3 linked regions of the Homo sapiens genome follow. The protein of the gene in region 3 purifies or fractionates together with the protein of the main gene of each other region. This does not show direct contact. Each region holds a gene or a part of one and is shown on either strand. Other genes may lie near its edges.

Region 1 (3,650 bases), on a different chromosome or scaffold from region 3:
AAGGCCCTGCAGGCCTGGTCAGCACCAGCACAGATGACCAGGCCTCTGACTGCAGATCCCTGTGGGGATCCAAGCATCCCTGGTTTTTCACCCTTTAGCTCCCCAGTTTTTCCTACAAGGGGACAGCTCTGCTCTTCCCCTCCCCGTCTGTTCCCATGGTCCCTGCTCCTCTGAGGGACTGGCTTTCTCCTGCAGGGACACTGCAGGGCAGGAGAGATACCAGACCATCACAAAGCAGTACTATCGGCGGGCCCAGGTAAGCCACCACATTGGGGGTTTCAAAGTGGGAAGCTGCCACCCACACTCCCAGCTCTGGGTATTTGAGATGTCTGTGCCACGGATCCCCTAAATACAGTTCGCCTGCTTGGAGGAGCGCAGGGCGTCTTTCAGCTGTTCACTGATCATTTGTCCGTCCATTGTTCATGGCCCACTCACTGCAGGCAGGCCCCTGCCCTCACCCCTGACTTCCACCCTCCATCCTGGGTCAAAGATCCAGGTCAAAGCATGTGGTGTCTTCCTGCTGTAGAGAGTTCTGTGATGGGCCTGGGAGGCGGCAGTGGTGGGGTCTGAGAGAAGAGATATTTCTGGATGCTGAGCAGGGAGAATGGGAGAGTGGGACCCAACCTTTAAGTTTCCACGGCCCCTTCTGGCCCCATGACTGCACTCTCTCTGTGCATATCACATCTCTCTATTTCTCTCTCTCTCAGGGGATATTTTTGGTCTATGACATTAGCAGCGAGCGCTCTTACCAGCACATCATGAAGTGGGTCAGTGACGTGGATGAGGTAGGAGATGCCACCTCACTGCCGGGGTGTGGAGAGGGTGCCTCACCGGGGAAGGCAAGGCGAGGGCCAGATGGGAAGGCAAATGCTTCCAGGAAGCTTTGCCTTCCACAGCCCTGGATGAAGACCTCTGGGTGAGTAAGACATGGGGAAGAAACCGAAGCTGCCATGCCCTCACTCTCTATACCCTGCCAGGCCTCCACGGCTGTGTCTTTCCCGGAAATGAATTAGTTCCAAGTCTTCCCTGTGAGCAGCTTCTTTCCTGAAATCTTGGGACCAGGTGGAGTTGCAAGATTGGGATCTAGTCCTGGCTCTGCACAATAGCTGTGGAGCCTTGGGAAGCCATTTGAATCCTCTGGGTCCCCAGTTCCTGTAGAATGAGGGCTGGACTTACATCCAATGTCCTTTCCAGCTCTGATACCAGTGGTCTAACCCAAGGAAGCACCAGTCTTAGCCAGAGTGTCTTCTACCCTAAGCTCTCCCCGTGATACCCTTGAGGTCAGCCATGGCACTTGGGGGAGCCTGGCACCTGCATCCAGTCGGCCCACCCTGTCCCTAGGGCTCTGGAATTGGTGGTGGGCTGGAGGCAGTGCAGACTCTGTAGGGAAAATTGGGGGGGCAGGCAGCACTCACTGGCTGTTCTGCCCATCCTTTGTCCCTAGTACGCACCAGAAGGCGTCCAGAAGATCCTTATTGGGAATAAGGCTGATGAGGAGCAGAAACGGCAGGTGGGAAGAGAGCAAGGGCAGCAGGTAAGTGGAGGGAAAAGGCAAGTCCACCCCAGGTCCTCTGCTGGGCCTCCAGGGCCAGTCCTGAGCGTGGGGACCTAGGGGTGTGTTCCCCAGTGGCAGGTCCTCCCACACGTCCCCAGCACCCCAAGGCCCTGGGGGAGTGGCCATCCTCGGAAGGCTTGTTGTCTGGGTTTCAGGACAGAAGCCCAGAGATTCGGGGTCCATCCAGAAACAAAGACGTCATAGGCAGCAACTCTCCCAAGTCCAGGTCCCCAAATGCAGGATTGCCCTCTGCTTAAGAGATCATCCCCGTGTTAGTAATGAAGGACTTCAAGTTGTCAACCTCTTCTCTGACAGCATCCAGGCCTAGCTGCCATGTTACGGTCGAGAAATGATCTCCCATCCCACCCAACACTCCCCCACTCCTGTCCTTCTTACCCAGGAAAGAGCCAGGGAGGCAAATGAGGAGACAAAGAGCCACAGCTGGAGAAGCCATGGGGGCAGAAAGGGTAGGAGGATGACGCTGAGGGAATGTCCAAGCATGCAGGGAGACCATCCTCCCAGAGAGCAGAAAGAAATATTGGTTATTTTTTTTTTCTTTCTTTCTTTTTTTTTTTTTTTTTGAGATGGAGTCTCGCTCTGTCACCCAGGCTAGAGTGCAGTGGCGCCATCTCGGCTCACTGCAACCTCTGCCTCCTGAGTTCAAGCAATTCTTCTGCCTCAGCCTCCCAAGTAGCTGAGATTACAGGTGCATGCCACCACGCCTGGCTAATTTTTTTGTATTTTTAGTAGAGATGGGGTTTTGCCATATTGGCCAGGCCGGTCTCGAACTCCTAACCTCAGGTGATCCACCTGCCTCAGTCTCCCAAAGTGCTGGGATTACAGGCGTGAGCCACTGTGCCCAGCCAAGATTGGTATTTCTGAGATAAGTTATCCACTCAGTCCGTGGACCTCAAGAGTTTTCCTCTCCCTTTTCAGTCAATAGCGTTCCATTAGTACTTAAAATGAAATTGATTGTTTGGTATAAAATATAAGACATGGTCATTGACCAATTTGAAAGTAGAGGCAAAGCCTACTAGGATAGTATTTATTGAGCACTCTATGTGTGGCACTGTGCTAAGGCAAGCGCTTTTAAGTGCACGACCCCACTGAATCATCCCACAACCATGGATGGGAGACACACTCAGTCTCCTTTAACAGAAGATAAAGCTGGGGCTTACAGAGAATGTACAACTTGTCCAAGGTCACACAGCTAGCCATCAGTGGCAGTGCTGCTATTCAGGTCTGGGACTGTGGGACTCCAGAGCCCATGTTTTTTACGAGGATGCCATACTGCCACAATGGATGGTGTCTTTATCTCCTGATATATGATTGTGTGTTGGGAGGCGTGGGGTGGCAGCTGGAAGAATGGAGAGGCATATTTGTGGAGGATCTTCCCCCATTCTCTGCTACCCTCTCTTGGAGCTCCCAGTCCCATCTGAGAAATTATCTACTCTGAGAAATCGTCACAACACAGCATGGTTGTGAGTGCAGTGGCAGAAGCCTGTGCCTGGTTGTATGGGCCCCTCCCCTGCCTTACTGACTCTCTTTCAGAAATGTCCTTCTCTTGCAGCTGGCGAAGGAGTATGGCATGGACTTCTATGAAACAAGTGCCTGCACCAACCTCAACATTAAAGAGGTGAGAGCCCTGGTGACCAGGCGCCCGCTCTCTCGGGCTGAGTCCAGCAGAGGTGGGAGGAGGAGCCATAAGATGGACCTTATCCCTCAGGCCGCTGCAGGGTTGCCAGGGGAGAGGAGGAGACACTGGACTAACCTGTGCCCTTTGGTTTCCAGTCATTCACGCGTCTGACAGAGCTGGTGCTGCAGGCCCATAGGAAGGAGCTGGAAGGCCTCCGGATGCGTGCCAGCAATGAGTTGGCACTGGCAGAGCTGGAGGAGGAGGAGGGCAAACCCGAGGGCCCAGCGAACTCTTCGAAAACCTGCTGGTGCTGAGTCCTGTGTGGGGCACCCCACACGACACCCCTCTTCCCTCAGGAGGCCCGTGGGCAGACAGGGGAGCCGGGGCTTTGCCCTGCTGCTGTCCTCTCGTGTGATGACCCTATTGAGTATCAGTAGCCACTACTCCCCCTGCCTGGCC
Region 2 (3,650 bases), on a different chromosome or scaffold from region 3:
GCCATTCCAGGGAATTGGAAGTTGAGGCCAGGGCAAGCCCTTGGAAGGTTTTAAGCCCCAGCAAGGCCAGATGAGCATTTCTGAAAAGCGTCTATAGTAGAAATGTAAAGAATGGAACCTTTAGTATTAGAGGTTGACTATCCCTTATCTGAAATGCTTGGGACCAGAAGTGTTTCAGATTTCAGATTGTTTGGGATTTTGAAATATTCTCATTATACCCAGTGGTTCAGCGTCCCTAATCCAAAAGTCCAAAATGCTCTAATGAGCCTTTCCTTTGTGCATCATGTCGTTGCTCAGAAAGTAGTTTTGGGTTTTTGGACTAGAGATATTCAGCTTGTATTATAATTGTCAAAGGAGTGATGAGTCCCAAGCCTTCCTTAGGACTATTCACTCATAGTTAATAGTGAATAGTTCCCACTATTCACTCTTCCACCCTCCTACACCCTGGCCAAATTAATTGCTTCCTGGAATCAGTATTCCCGTAGCATTCTTCACATCCTTTGTTAATTATTGTCTGTCCTAACATGGAAATGTGAGCTACAGGAGAACAAGAAGCAGGCCAGTTACTCATCTCCCCATCACCAGCACCTCTTGTGATGTGTGGTGGGTAGCAGGCCCACGCAAGCATCTGTGAGGGGAAGTGGAGAAGGAAGGAAGATGTGCATGTGCCACATGGGAAGTGCTGAACGTACTGGGGCTTTCAAACATGTTGCCTCTTCTGTCCTTCATAAAAATCCTATGTGGTGGGTAGTGTTAGCCATGTTTAACAGGTAAGGAAACTAGTCAGAAAGGTTGAGTCATCTTTAGAAGGTTCCATGCCTAATAGGTGGCGGAGCCAGGATTTGAGACAAATAGACTGATTCGAAAGGCTTTTCCATGGAACTGTAAGGTCTTCTGTGAATTGTTAACCATAAAGATTCTCTCATTTTGAAATTTCAGAAGACATGAAGTAGAAACAATCCAGGAAGGCTTTGGGAAGCTATTTGTGTGCGAGGATCAAAGTGGTAAGCAAGCCGGCCCTATTTTAGAAACTGGTTTTCCTGGGGGGTTTTCCTCTTAGTTTTTTCTGTTGCTCGTAAATAGACCTTTTCTCCAAATTTCACCCACTGGTCTTTTAAGAGCTCCAAGGTTTTTCCACCATGACTGAAGTGGCAGAAGTTCTGCCGTGATGAGTCAGGTGGAGATGAGCCGTGGAAAGGAGGGGCGTAGACGGTGGTGGCAGCAGTGCGTGTTTATGTGTAAGATGCACTGCTTCTGTAAGTCGGAGGCCCTGATTACTCATAATGAAAACCTGCATGGAAATTTGGAGTGATGTGCCAGCAAACTTATCGGTCTAGATCTGAAAAATACACTGAGGAGAAAGTACACCCGGCAACAAAGCTCGCCTTATCTGACAGCAGAAGAGCAGAGAAATCAAAAGTTTTTGAGGATTCGGTGTACACAGCCACCAGCCACAAACAGTCTTGCTGGATTATCTCGTGATCGTCAGCAGTTGTGATTTTCCCCCTTTTTACTTACATTCTTGATGGATGGAGCATTTTATATTTTTAGGTAATTGTTAAACTCAAATATACTGACTGTCATTAAAACACAAAAATTCAATATGTTAATTGTCTGTCTGCAGCCAGACTAGGAAAGGGTACATTGTTTTCAAAACTTAATAATTGAATTAAAATGTAAAAAAAACAAGGGCCTTAATGTGAAGGTGAGGGATCTGCATCTCCTAGCTACCCCTGTCTCCTATCTAGACATCTAGAGTCTCTAGATCCTGGGGTACTGGGGAGAATGGACAATGTTGCTTTCCTGTGCAAGATCCTCAGATGACATATTTTAGCCCCCAGGGCGCTCATGCCTCCATCTTCCTCCAGCCTCATGGGCATTTCCTCCCCTATGTGTACCTTTACCTTTCACCAGGCAAAGCCACCTGTGGTTCCCTTGGATTCCTCCTGCTCTGTCTTGTCTCTGTAGTGTTGCATGTACTGCAGCCCAGCCAGCTGATGTGAATCTTGCCCTGCTACTTATTATCTGTCTGACATTGAGCATGTTACTTAACCCTCTGTGCCTCGGTTTTCTCATCTGTAGAATGGAGATAATAATAGTACCTAACTCCTAGGGTTGATGTCAATATTGAGTTAATACATTAAAAGTGTTTTCTTTTGTGTGTGTGGCAGAATAAGCACCCAAATTATAGCTGTTATTGAGTACCTAGTTACTGTTCTACTGAAAGGAATGGAAAATAAATACTCGTCCCTCGAAATGTCCTTCATCCTTCCTATCTCTTCCCAGCATTCCCTATAAAACTTTCTTCGTAGAACGCCCTTCCTGGCCTCCATCTCACCTGGCTCTGATGCCTGTCATCTATACTGCGTCTCTACCTCTGCAAACATCCTGTCTGCTGCTCAGCATACTGGACTAGGCTGATGAATTGACCTGTTCTCTTCCTGCACAAGACCTTAAGCTCCATGAGGCAGGGCCATACTTGTTAAATTGATATCTTCCATGTCTAGAAGGGTTCTAGCACACACTAGACAGATGCTAGCCATAAGTCTATAATTGTCTGGGTGACCTTAGGCAAATGACTTGACCTCTCAATGCCTCAGTTTTCTCATTTGTTTGTAAAAAGGATTGATGACACTGTCTAGTTCAGAAGATGATACGAGAATTGGAAGAGGAAACTAGAGGCAGTGTCGTGTAGGGGTTAAGAGCTTAGCCTCTGGATCCAAGCCAGCTGATGTGAATCCTGCTCTGCTACTTATCTCTATGACGTTGAGCATGTTACTTGACCGTCTGTGCCTCAGTTTTCTCATCTGTAAAATGGGGATAATAATAGTACCTACCTCCTATGGTTGATGTAAATATTGAGTTAATACATAAAAATAACTTCTTTATTTTTGTGTATGTGACAGAATAAACACCCAAATTTTAGCTGTTATTAAGTACCTAGTTACTGTTCTACTGAATGGAATGGAAAATAAATACTCTATAAAGTTATTCTGCACTTGTGTATCAGGAATTTGGACATCTTGAGGCACTTTTCAGGCAGGTGTGATGGCTCTAAATGGAGGTTATAGGAAAGTTAAGTTTTAAATCCCCAATAATTTTCAGGGACAGTGAGTATTTCTCTTACAACTTAACTTTGAATGACTTTATTATTGTCCCCTAGTCCATAGATGTTTTCATCCAAAGAAGATAGAGGTCTGTGATCCAAGAAATTTGAAGCAGTGACTTAGAGCAGAAATAGGGATCATGATACTTTGAATAATGCATAAAGAAGGAAACCTTTCTAAACAAAAGGGACACAAATGTTGCTTTTTTGGCAACGGGATGCATACGGTCTGTGGAATACCATTTGCTTCAGGTCCAGGGATGTAGAAAACTCCCCTTGGTTTAGTCTTCACACTAAAGGGCCAGGACAAGCCCTTGGAAGGGAGGTTTTAGTGTGAAGTGGTTAGCCGTTACCTGTGCTTCGAGTTCTGTTTGTGTCTTAGTTTGGATTCCCCCAAAAGTAGACCCCAAGACAAGGATTCAGAGGTAGACGTTTATTTGGGAACTGATCCCAGGAAGCACAAGAAAGGAAGTAGGGACAGTAAGGCGGAGATGGAGGCTCATAAAGGGTACATTGATGAACAGGTTGCTGCTCACGTGTAGGA
Region 3 (3,650 bases):
GTTTCGCTCTTTTTTTTTTTGAGATGGAGTCTTGCCCTGTCACCCAGGCTGGATTGCGATGGCACGATCTCGGCTCACTGCAACCTCCGCCTCCTGGGTTTAACCTCCTGCCTCAGACTCCCAAGTAGCTGGGATTACAGGCACCCGGCACCACGCCCGGCTAATTTTTTGTGTCTTTAGTAGAGACAGGGTTTCACTATGTTGGCCAGGCTGGTCTCAAACTCTTGACCTCGTGATCTGCCCGCCTTGGCCTCCCCAAGTGCTGGGATTACAGGCGTGAGCCACTGTGCCCAGTCCCACTTTTTTTTTTTTTTTGAGACGGAGTTTCACTCTTGTTGCACAGGCTAGAGTGCAATGGCACGATCTTGTCTCACTGCAACCTCCGCTTCCTGAGTTTAAGCAATTCTCCTGTCTCAGCCTCCTGAGTAGCTGGGATTACAGGCACCCACCACTACACCTGGCTAATTTTTGGTATTTTTAGTAGAGATGAGGTTTCACCATGTTGGCCAGGCTGGTCTTGAACTCCTGACCTCAGGTGATCTGCCCGCCTCAGCCTCCAAAAGTGCTGGGACTACAGACGTGAGCCACTGGTGCCCGGCCTGACATATATCTTGAGTAAAAGAGCCTGTGCTGGGCTCTGGGGATGCAGCTGTGAATGTAATCACTGCTGAAGTCCCGTGGGGGAGATAGACACCAAACACACCCACCAGAAAATGAACACAATCATATCAGAGGAGACACAGCAGGTTGCGTTCATCCGCTGCATGGAGTCCACCTCCCCGGCACCCACCCTCACTTCCTGTTTGCAGACACTTCCTTGGGTTTTTCCTCCAGCAGGGAAGTGGCTCTGTCTGGTGAGGCTGCTGTGCTGTCTTCCACAGAAGTGACTGAGAGCTGAGAGGCTGGGGAACTGGGGAACCAGAGTTGCAGGGGCTACAAAGTGACTCGGTTCTGAGTGAGGTCACTGGGCATTCCCATGCAAGGACCTCCCTTGCAGGTAGCTGGGCCTCCCCTTCTGCAGAGATGAGATAGGCCTAGAGAGGGGAAGCAAGGAGCTCAAGATCACACAGCAGACAAACTGAACAGCTGGGTTGAGAATCCAGGTGTCCTGAATCCAACGCTGGATTCCTGCTGTCCCTGGGTCTGAGTAGAGCCCATTTCAGCCCCTCCCTCCTGCCTCTGCTGTCGGTCTAGACAGTTCTGGCCCAACTCTTTTTTTTTTTTTTTTGATACAGAGTTTTGCTCTTGTTGCCTAGGCTGGAGTGCGATGGCGCGATCTCGGCTTACTGCAACCTCTGCCCTCGGGGTTCAAGTGATTCTCCTGCTTCAGCCTCCTGAGTAGCTGGGATTACAGGCATGCACCAACATGTCCGGCTAATTTTTGTATTTTTAGTAGAGATGGGGTTTCGCCACTTTGGCCAGGCTGGTCTCAAACTCCTGACCTCAGGCGATCCACCTGCCTCGGCCTCCCAAAGTGGTAGGATTACAGGCATGAGCCACTGCGCCCGGCCCTGGCCCAACTCTTTAAAGTGTTTTATGAAGTCAGAGGTTTCTTTTCTTTTCTTTCTTTTTTTTTTTTGAAATGGAGTTTCACTCTTCTTGCCCAGGCTGGAGTGCAATGGCGCGGTCTCAGCTCACTGCAACCTCTACCTCCCGGGTTCAAGCGATTCTCCTGTTTTAGCCTCCCAAGTAGCTGGGATTACAGGCACCCGCCACCACACCCGGCTAATTTTTGTAGTTTTAGTAGAGACGGGGTTTCACCATGTTGGCCAGGCTGGTCTCGAATTCCTGACCTCAGGTGATCCACCCACCTCAGCCTCCCAAAGTGCTGGGATTACAGGCATGAGCCACTGCACCCAGCCATCTTTTCTTTCATTATATATATATATGTATATATATACATGCATATACATATATATGTACATATATTATGTGTATATATGCGTGCGCGCACACACACACACACGCACATATATGTGTATTTTTTTTGAGACAGGGTTTTACTCTGTTGTGTTGCCTAGGCTGGAGTGCAGTGGCATGATCACAGCTCAATGCGTCCTCAACCTTCCTGGGCTGCGGTGATCCTCCTATCTCAGCCTACTGAGAAGCTGGGACTACTGGTGCATGCAACCACACCCAGCTAACTTTTATATTTTTTGTAGAGGTGGAGTATCACCATGTTACCCAGGTTGGTCTTGAACTCCTAAGCTCAAGGGATCTACCCTTCTCGGCCTCCCAAAGTGCTGGGATTACAGGCATGAGCCACTATGCCCAGCCATAAATAAATAACTTTAGGAAAAAAAGAAAAAATAGCCGGGTGAAGTGGCTCATGCCTGTAATCCCAGCACTTTGGGAGGCCGAGGCAGGTGGATTGCTGTTGAGACCAGACTGGGCAACATAGCAAGAACCTGTCTCTACCAAAATAAAAATAAAAAAATTAACCAGGCATAGTGGTGGCACACCTGTAGTCCTAGCTACATGGGAGGTTGAGATGGGAGGTTTGCTTGAGGCCAGGAGTTTGAGGCTGCGGTGAGCTATGATCACGCCAGTGCACTGCAGCCTGGGCAACAGAGCGAGACCCCATCCCTAAACAGAAAAAATAAACAAGAAAATTTAGAACATGGCAAAAGCAGAAAAATTAAAATAATGTCTTATACCCCTTCCCCCTGATGTAACACTAGGGATTAAAATAATTGAACAAATAACATTATGTATATTTTAATAGAAAACAAAATGAAAGTATTTCCAGACCCCAGAGGCTCTGGTGAGAGGCAGTCTAAGGTTGGGGTTAAGAGCATGGACTCAAAATTTTCACTCTGCCATTTCCTCTTTGGGTGACCATGGGTCAGTTATTTAACCACTCTGCCTCAGTTTCCCTTTTGCAGTGAGGATAGGAATAACACCCATCTCACAGGGTTGACTTGAGGAGTAAATGAGGAAATGTATAAACCAGTGTTTGGCACCTATTTAGATTAGTATTCTTTTTTTTTTTTTTTTTTGAGACAGAGTCTCGCTGTGTCATCCAGGCTGGAGCTCAGTGGCACAACCTTGGCAGACTGCAGCCTCTGCCTCCCATGTTCAAGCGATTCTCATGCCTCAGTCTCCCAAGTAGCTGGGATTACAGGTGCGCACCACCACGCCTGGCTTAATTTTTGTATTTTTAGTAGAGATAGGGTTTCACTATGATGGCCGGTCTGGTCTGGGATTTCTGACCTCAAGTGATCCACCCACCTTGGCCTCCCAAAGTGCTGGGATTACAGGTGTGAGCCACTGCGCCCAGCCAAGATTAGTATTCTTACTACTTCTTATTTCACTGATTAGCGTTTAGCTGGATTCCTTAGAATCGCAATTCAGCCTTAGCCTGCGGCCTTCCTTGTGGCCAAACCTGAATCTCTCTCTACTGAGCTCATCTCTGGGACTCTGCGGGGTGGGTGGGGTGTGGGCAGCTGTTGGTGGTACGCAGCTCATTCGTTGGCCCTCTCTGGGCAGCCTGGTGGGCAGGGGCAGCCCTGGTGGGCACAGCTTACCGTGCTGAGTGTGGGCATGGGCACTCCCTCGCCCTGCAGGGATTCTCATTGATAAAGGTACAGTTTGTGGCAGACAGTCCTTTGTTATGCTGCCTGTATTTTCAGCCTCGCAATGTATTTTCA

The links.
Region 1: the proteins of MICALL1 (region 3) and RAB15 purify together in Homo sapiens (affinity purification with mass spectrometry; one large-scale study listed by BioGRID and IntAct). This does not show direct contact.
Region 2: the proteins of MICALL1 (region 3) and ZBTB21 purify together in Homo sapiens (affinity purification with mass spectrometry, with the first as the bait; one large-scale study listed by BioGRID). This does not show direct contact.

Annotation. Positions count from the first base shown.
Region 1 is NC_000014.9:64,948,209-64,951,858, reverse strand, and holds part of RAB15 (ras-related protein Rab-15), read left to right. Parts: intron 1-195; coding exon 196-256; intron 257-707; coding exon 708-785; coding exon of another isoform or gene 786-916; intron 917-1,444; coding exon 1,445-1,534; intron 1,535-3,125; coding exon 3,126-3,191; intron 3,192-3,346; coding exon 3,347-3,505; 3' UTR 3,506-3,650. UniProt on the Homo sapiens protein: The small GTPases Rab are key regulators of intracellular membrane trafficking, from the formation of transport vesicles to their fusion with membranes.
Region 2 is NC_000021.9:42,000,251-42,003,900, reverse strand, and holds part of ZBTB21 (zinc finger and BTB domain-containing protein 21), read left to right. Parts: intron 1-939; 5' UTR 940-1,004; exon of another isoform or gene 1,005-1,551; intron 1,552-3,650. UniProt on the Homo sapiens protein: Acts as a transcription repressor.
Region 3 is NC_000022.11:37,912,665-37,916,314, forward strand, and holds part of MICALL1 (MICAL-like protein 1), read left to right. Parts: intron 1-3,650. UniProt on the Homo sapiens protein: Lipid-binding protein with higher affinity for phosphatidic acid, a lipid enriched in recycling endosome membranes. On endosome membranes, acts as a downstream effector of Rab proteins recruiting cytosolic proteins to regulate membrane tubulation.